Linked DNA regions of Homo sapiens. The protein of the gene in region 1 purifies or fractionates together with the protein of each later gene. This does not show direct contact. Each region holds a gene or a part of one and is shown in the gene's direction. Other genes may lie near its edges. The genes, in order: ZNF558 and VSIG4.

The links.
Region 2: the proteins of ZNF558 (region 1) and VSIG4 purify together in Homo sapiens (affinity purification with mass spectrometry; one large-scale study listed by BioGRID and IntAct). This does not show direct contact.

The regions. Positions count from the first base shown.
Region 1 is NC_000019.10:8,818,686-8,822,505, reverse strand, and holds part of ZNF558 (zinc finger protein 558), read left to right. Parts: intron 1-413; exon of another isoform or gene 414-414; coding exon 415-503; exon of another isoform or gene 504-1,064; intron 1,065-1,199; coding exon 1,200-1,326; intron 1,327-3,820. UniProt on the Homo sapiens protein: May be involved in transcriptional regulation.
Region 2 is NC_000023.11:66,022,799-66,026,618, reverse strand, and holds part of VSIG4 (V-set and immunoglobulin domain-containing protein 4 isoform 1 precursor), read left to right. Parts: intron 1-1,489; coding exon 1,490-1,594; intron 1,595-3,756; coding exon 3,757-3,778; coding exon of another isoform or gene 3,779-3,782; exon of another isoform or gene 3,783-3,820. UniProt on the Homo sapiens protein: Phagocytic receptor, strong negative regulator of T-cell proliferation and IL2 production. Potent inhibitor of the alternative complement pathway convertases.

The DNA.
Region 1 (3,820 bases):
GTCCTCCGTGTCTGATCGGGCAGCTCTCGGGATTTGGGACTTAGGCATTTGGGTGTCTGTGGATGTCACCTGTGTGGTGAATGTGCTGGAGCTTTTGAATTCTCCCTTTAGTTCTTTCTGTGAATCTGATAAAAACACAGTGACGCCCTTGGAACTTGTTTCCTCATCTGTGAAGTGGGAATAATCCCTTCCCCAAGTGCAGTCAGACCTTGAGCCCTATTGTCTTTGGTTGGTGAGACAGGGCTGTGTTTGGGTATCTTAGGAGAGCTGTGGGTAGGTGTTTGCATGGAGCGTAGGTGGGCACTGTGTGGTGCCTCATCCGTGTGGGTGTGGGAGGTGGGTGTGGTCAATCAGGGGCAGATCTGTGGGTGTCAGACAAGCCTGAATCCATGGGACTCATTTCTCCTCCTCCAGCTCCGTCTTCCCTGTTCCCAGCCTCTCAGCAAAAAGGACACACACAGGGCGGAGAGCTGGTTAATGAGCTCCTGACAAGCTGGCTACGGGTGAGTCAGATGTTCCTTTTCCCAAATCATTATTCCTTTGGCCAGAAGGTTGGACTTGATACCTTCCAGCAGCCTGGAGCCTCATGGCCAAACCAGGTCCTCAGGCATCCCAGGATTTCCAGGCATCAGATGGAGGGTGAGGGCTGCCCAGAAAATGTCAGTGTGTGTCAACATTTACTGCAGGTTCAGAGCTCCCTCCAGGGTCCCTGAGTACATCATGTGCTCCTGAGAGTTTTAAGGGAAAGCCAAGTAAAGACGTGATGATGTTCTAAACCCAAGCAATTAATAAACGCCACGGAAATCAGTCATTCACTTACCAAGTATTTCTCTGCTTTCTGCCATGTCACGGGCCCATGATCCCCTGGAGATTGAGGGAAATAAGATCACAGGAGCTCCCAGTCTGAGTGAGAAAAGGCAGCTGCTCTGTGGTACTGTGCACTGGACCTGGGAATGGCCTAAGGAGACAAGCATTGAGGGCTGAGCTCAGAAGCCAGGGAGAAGAGCTCAGAACCCCAGGAGAGGAGCTCAGAACCCTGGGAGAGGAGCTCAGAACCCTGGGAGGTGAGCTCAGAACCACCCCCCCCAACATCTCGTGCTCAGGTTTCCCCAGCCCTGGCTCTGTTCTCCTGGCCCCTCTTCCTGTGCACGTTGGTGGGGGTGGTCCTTGGCTAAGCCGTGATGTTTGCAATGCTTTAGGGCTTGGTAACCTTCGAGGATGTGGCCGTGGAGTTCACCCAGGAGGAGTGGGCGTTGCTGGACCCTGCCCAAAGGACACTGTACAGGGATGTGATGCTGGAGAACTGCAGGAACCTGGCCTCACTAGGTAAGCCTAATGTCATTCCTGCATTTATTTAATGACTCCAGTGGCAACACTTGCCTGCTTTGCTTACTTTTTTTATTGTGGTAAAATCCATACAACATAAAATTCACCATTTTTAACCATTCTAAGATATCCAGTCCAGTGGTTTTTCATACATTCATGGTATTGTGCAACCATCAACACTATCTAATATCACCATATTTTCATCACCCTGAAGGAAACCCCGTCCCTATGAAGCAGCCAATACCCGTTACTTTCCCTACCCACTGCTGCTGGTAACCACTCATCTGGTGTCTGTCTTTAGGAATTTACCTATCCAGAACATATCATATAAATGTAATTACAAAATACATTACCTTTTGTGTCTGACTTTTCATGTAGCACAGTGTTTTAAAAACTTAGCTATGGGCCAGGTGTGGTGGCTCACACCTGTAATCCCAGCACTTTGGGAGGCCGAGGCGGGCGGATCACGAGGGCAGGAGTTCGAGACCAGCCTGACCAACATGGTGAAACCCCATCTCCACTAAAAATACAAATTAGCCGGACGTGGTGGCACACACCTATCCCCAGCTAGTCAGGAGGCTGAGGCAGGAGAATCGCTTGAACCAGGAGGCAGAGGTTGCAGTGAGCTGAGATTGTGCCATTGCACTGCAGCCTGGGCAACAGAGCACAACTGTGTCTCAAAAAAAACAAAACAAAAAAACTTAGCTATGTTGTATGTTGTACCAGCGCTTCATTCCTTATGACTGAATGATATTCCATTGTATGGACATACCACATTTTGCCAATCCATTTTTCTATTGAGAAACATTTGAGTTGTTTCCACTCTTTGACTATCAAGAATAATGCTATAATACTATGAATTTTTGTGTACGAGCTTTTGTTTAAATGCCCACTTTCCATTTTCTTGGGCATATACTAGGAGTGGAAGGCTAGGTCTGTGTTTAGCTTCTTGAGGAACTGCCAGACTTTTCCACAGCAGCTGCACCATTGCACGTTCCCGCCAATGCAGGAGGGTTCCAGCTTCTCTGCATCTTCCCAGCACTTGCCTTTTTGATTATACTCATACCAGTAGGTATGAAGTGCTATCTCGTTCTTGTTTTGATTTGCATTTTTCTAATGACAAATGACATGGAGCATCTTTTCATGTACTTGTTGAGTATTTTTCTTTGGAAAAATGTCTATTCAAGTCCTTTGCCCATTTTTGTTATTGTTGTTATTTGTTTGTTTGCTTGTTTTGACACAGTCTCCCTCTGTCGCCCAGGCTGGAGTGCAGTGGCGCAGCACGATCTCGGCTCACTGCAACCTCTGCCTTCCGGGTTCAAGTGATTCTCATACCTCAGCCTCTCAAGTAGCTGGAATTACAGGCATGTGCCACCATGCCTGGCTAAATTGTTTTGTATTTTTTATAGAGACAGGGTTTCGCTGTGTTGGCCAGGCTGGTCTCAAACTCCTGGCCTCAAATGATCCGCCTGCCTTGGCCTCCCAAAGTGCTGGCATTACAAGTGTGAGCCACCGCTCCCAGTCCTCTGCCCATGTTTTACTTGGGTTGTTTATTTTTGTTGTCGGATTTTAAAAGTTCATTTTATATTCTGGGTACCAAATCCTTATTCAAAATATAATACATAAATGATTTCTCTATTCTTTGGGTGTCTTTTCATTTTCTTGATAGTGTCCTTTGATGCACAAAAGTTTTAATTGTGACCAGGCAGAGTGGCTCACGCCTGTAATCCCAGCACTTTGGGAGGCTGAGATGGATGGATCACTTAAGGTCAGGAGTTCAAGACCAGCCTGGCCAACTTAGTGAAGCCCCATCTCTACTAAAAATGCAAAAATTAGCCAGGCGTGGTGGCAGGTGCCTGTAATCCCACCTACTCGGGAGGCTGAGGCAAGAGAATCACTTGAACCTGGGAGGCAGAGGTTGTAGTGAGCCGAGATCCACTATATTCCAGCCTAGGCGACAGAACGAGACTCCGTCTCAGAAGACAAAAAAAATTTTAATTGTGATGAAGTCTGTTGTATCTAGTTTTTCTTTTTTGCTTGTGCTCTTGGTGTGATACCTAAGAAACCATTGCTCAAGTCAAGGTCATGAAGATCTACCCCTATGTTTTCTTCCAAGAATTTTCTAGTGTTAACAATTCCACTCAGCTGTGTGATAGATTTTGAGTGAATTTTGCTTATGGTGTGGAGAAAGGGTCAACTTCATTCTTTTGCATGTGTGTATATCCAGTTGTCTCACCACCTTTATTCTTTCCCCATCAAATGACCTTGGTACCCTTATTGAAAATTATGTGGCCATACACACTGGAGTTTATTTACATACTCTCAATTCTGTTCCATTGGTCTGTATATCTCGAACTCCTGACCTCAAGTGATCCGCCTACCTGGGCCTCCCAAAGTGCAGGGATTACAGGCATGAGCCACTGCTCCTGGCTCCATTGGTCTATGTATCTGTCCTTGGGTCAGTACCACAATGCCTTGATTATTGTTACATTGT
Region 2 (3,820 bases), on another chromosome or scaffold:
GCAGAGTTTTTTGGCTATCCCTTGGCAGCACTCAAACCTGTTTTATGTTCCACATTTGCATTGCCATCTTTGGCTTCAAGATTTCCATAGCTCCGTTCCTCTCCGAGAAGAACATCTACTGGGAGAAGAGAAGTTAGAAATTGCCTCATAGGGAGTTGGTTTGGAAAAATGAGAAAATAACCTTGGGCAAAGTTATTAGATGTTGGGTCTGCGCCCTATTTTCTCTACCAAGTTTTTTAGTACTTGACTCTCTTCAAAAGAGAATATTTCTTCGATTTGTACCAGCTTATAACTTGAGCTCTCTCAGTCCCAACAAGACACTCTGAGGACCACAAATACTGGATTCCTAGGACACGATATCTTAGAGTCTCATGAAAACAAGCCAGTTGCAGCAACAAATCCTAAGTACACTGAGGTTCCTTTCCTCACGCCTCTCTATCCCCCCTGACCTAGCATCTTAGATTCAGAATATTATAGCTAAAAGTGCTTTAGACATCATCCAATCTTTTCATTGAACTTATGGGGTAACTAAGGCCTAGTGACAGTCAAAGTTTTGTCTAAGGTCACTGTATTCATTTTTCCATGGCTGCTGTAAAAACTTACCCCAAACCTAGTATCTTAAAACAGCATAAATATATTATCTTCCACTTCTGGAAATAAGTCTGACACAATTATCACTGAGCTAAAATCAAAATGTCAGTCAGCAAGGCTATGTTCCCTTTGGAGGGTTTGGAGAAGAATTAATTTCCTTGTCTTTCTTTTCTGGCTTCTAGAAGCTACCCACGTTCTTTGGCTCATGGCCCCCTTCCTCCATTTTCAAAACTAACAATGTAGCATTCTCAAATCTCTGTTCCTTTTTACTATGTAAACTAACATACTGACAGGTTCCAGGAATTTGGATGTGAATATCTTTAGAGGACCATTATTCTGCCTACCATAGTCATACAGAAAGTAAATAACAGATCTAGGACTGGAAGCCAAGTCCAGTTGATTCTTTCAGCTTTTAGGCATAATGGGAATATGTGTCTCAAGTGGCTCAGTGGAAATATGTTTTGAGAAAGAAGGAAGCTGGGGACTTGACCAGAGCGTGTGATGGGAAGAATCTTTGTGGCTAGAAGTAACTGACCAGAATCTTAATAAGGTATGTAGCATTTTTGGTGAAGCTGGAAAGTCAGGATATTATTTTCTTTTTTCTAAGGGAAGGTGAAAACCTTCTGTCTTGGCCCTATAGAAAGCATAGACAACTAGCTCAAATGCCCAGGCCAATCAGCCCACCAGTGAGTCTGGAAGAACCTGTTTACACATGGCATCTCTTTCTCAAGTCTTTCTCATGGGACTGGAGTTTTTTCTCTCTGGCTAGCTAAGAAGGTTAGGAGAATATGGAAAATGAAAAAGAAAAAGGCCTGGCTTAGTCTAGGCTGTTTCTTAGAGTTTTTGTTTCTGGCCTTATTTTCAATCAAATACCACTTGATCTTGTTTTACCCTCTAGGAAAGAGCCTGCCTGTCTTTGCCATCATCCTCATCATCTCCTTGTGCTGTATGGTGGTTTTTACCATGGCCTATATCATGCTCTGTCGGAAGACATCCCAACAAGGTTAGTGATGAATATGAGAAGGTGGCTTTGGCTCATTTGTTCTTTCTGTCAGTATACTTGAGCCTAAATTCTGTATCAGGCATTGTGTTAGGCACTTCAAGAAGCTCCCAGCCTAGTTTGGGAGTTAAGGTTGGGGTGCAGGGAGGCAGATGTTCGAGCAAACAATGGCATAAGACTTACAGAACTAAATGCACTAGGCTTTGGTACTCAGTGAAGTACAGCCATCTTTCTAACGAGTCATCTTGTAATGATGCAAGAGAAGGAGAAGTCACAATCCCTGGCCTCAAGTTGCTCACAATTTATTTAGGAGATTCAAGGTAGAAACATGGAATTTATCAATGACAATACATAGCAATAGAGGCTATGAGCTCAAAAACTAGAGAAGACAATTAATGCTAAAGGGATCCAGAGGAGAAGAGAGTAATTTAAGGCTTGGGTAATTAGCAAGGGATTTCAGAAGGAAGAATATCTTAGACCACATTTTGGAGGATGAAAACAAGTTGTAAGGAGACAGTATTTCAGGAAGAGAGAACTACATCAGCATAGTTGTTAGGGCCTAAAAGACAACTGAGAGTGGGGTCATCAATAAAGAAAATTTCTGTAGATGGGCAACAGGGAAGTACAGTGGGAAATGAAAGCTTATTCCTGATTATAGAAGGCCTTAAATGCCAGGTTAAATAATTTGGACTTTCTTCACTAGGCCTTGCAAGGGCACTAAATTTACCAAATTTTTCAAGCATGGAAGTGGCATAATGACAGCACAGTTGTCAGAGCCATTTAAAAACTATGAACCAACCGAGGAGGAAAAAAATTGGGATGCTTGTTTCTAAAAGAAAAAAATACTAGCTGTCTCTCAATGCCCAGTGCACTAGTCATGTTGCCTAGCATCAATTTGTCTTATTCTCTGTAGTATCTCTTACTCCCAAATAGCCTGGTTACTACCATGGATCTGATGGATTTCCATCACCAGAAGGGAGCCTTGAGTATCTCCTTCTCCCAGGTTTCAATTATAAGCTCTGGCTTTTGCCAGTTAGCATGTTTATCACCATGAGGCTGAACTTGATAGCACATGACTACAAACCCCAGGGGCACTAAAATGAAAGCATTTGCATATAGCCTTGATGAGGCTGGGCATAAGCGGTAACCACATTAAATTGTTTCTCTCTCAAAAACCTTCCATGGCTTCTTATGGCCCAGGGGATAAAGGTCAAAATGTAGCATTCTATTCAAGGCTCTCTGTGATGTGGGTCTAGCCAATTTTCTCAACCCACCACTTCCTTATACCTAGTCTCATTTCCAAAAATTCCTCTTTCCTATCTCTGTATAAGGGAGACAGCCTCAGAGCATCAATTTAATTTAACATAATTACTGAGCACCTATTGTGTGACAGGTGCTGAGCATATTAAGATGAAAAAGACACGACCCTTGCGGTACAGGTGCTCATAGGCCAATGGGCGAGTAAGACACAGAAATGCAGGGCTCTACCATAAGGCAGAAGTCCTGTGGCTTCCCTTGTTTACTTTGTTGTCATTTAATGCTTGCATTTCCAGTTGCATCCCTGAAAAATTATAAGCACCTAGAGGGCAGTACAAAGAAATATCTGTCTTTGCACCAACCTAAGCCTTTGAGCCTGTACGGAATATAGGACACTCCTCCTCCACAGACACTAGGGGGCAATGGTAACCAATACCATGGTTTTTCCTGGGTATATAGTGGGGGTGAGTGCATTTGGGAATGTCTTGGGTCACGGCCATCAGCATCAGGCTAATCCAGTCCCTTCTTCCTGGTATGTGGCCTGACAGTCAAGTTTCCCACAAGGACTCTCTGGGGATCCTTGGGGGAGATTCCTGGGTAAAGAGCAAGTCCAGTTCTAGTGCCCTCCCCCAACCCATACCGAGAAACTGCTCCAGCCCAATATCCTGAGTCCAAGATGACAAAAAGGATAGTGACCAAATGTGCTTCCCCTTCTTTTACCTGATAAATTTGCATCTCTGTGTTTCAATTCACCTCCCCAATACCTCCCAGTTGTTGGAAAGCTAAGACATATTAAAATCCCCTCCTCTGTACCCTTCCCTCATCTTTTGACTGGTACCCAGGATCCATGATTGACCTTTGTCCACTTGCCATGAAAACTTCTGACATGATTCCTCCTTTTTTTCTAGAGCATGTCTACGAAGCAGCCAGGTAAGAAAGTCTCTCCTCTTCCATTTTTGACCCCGTCCCTGC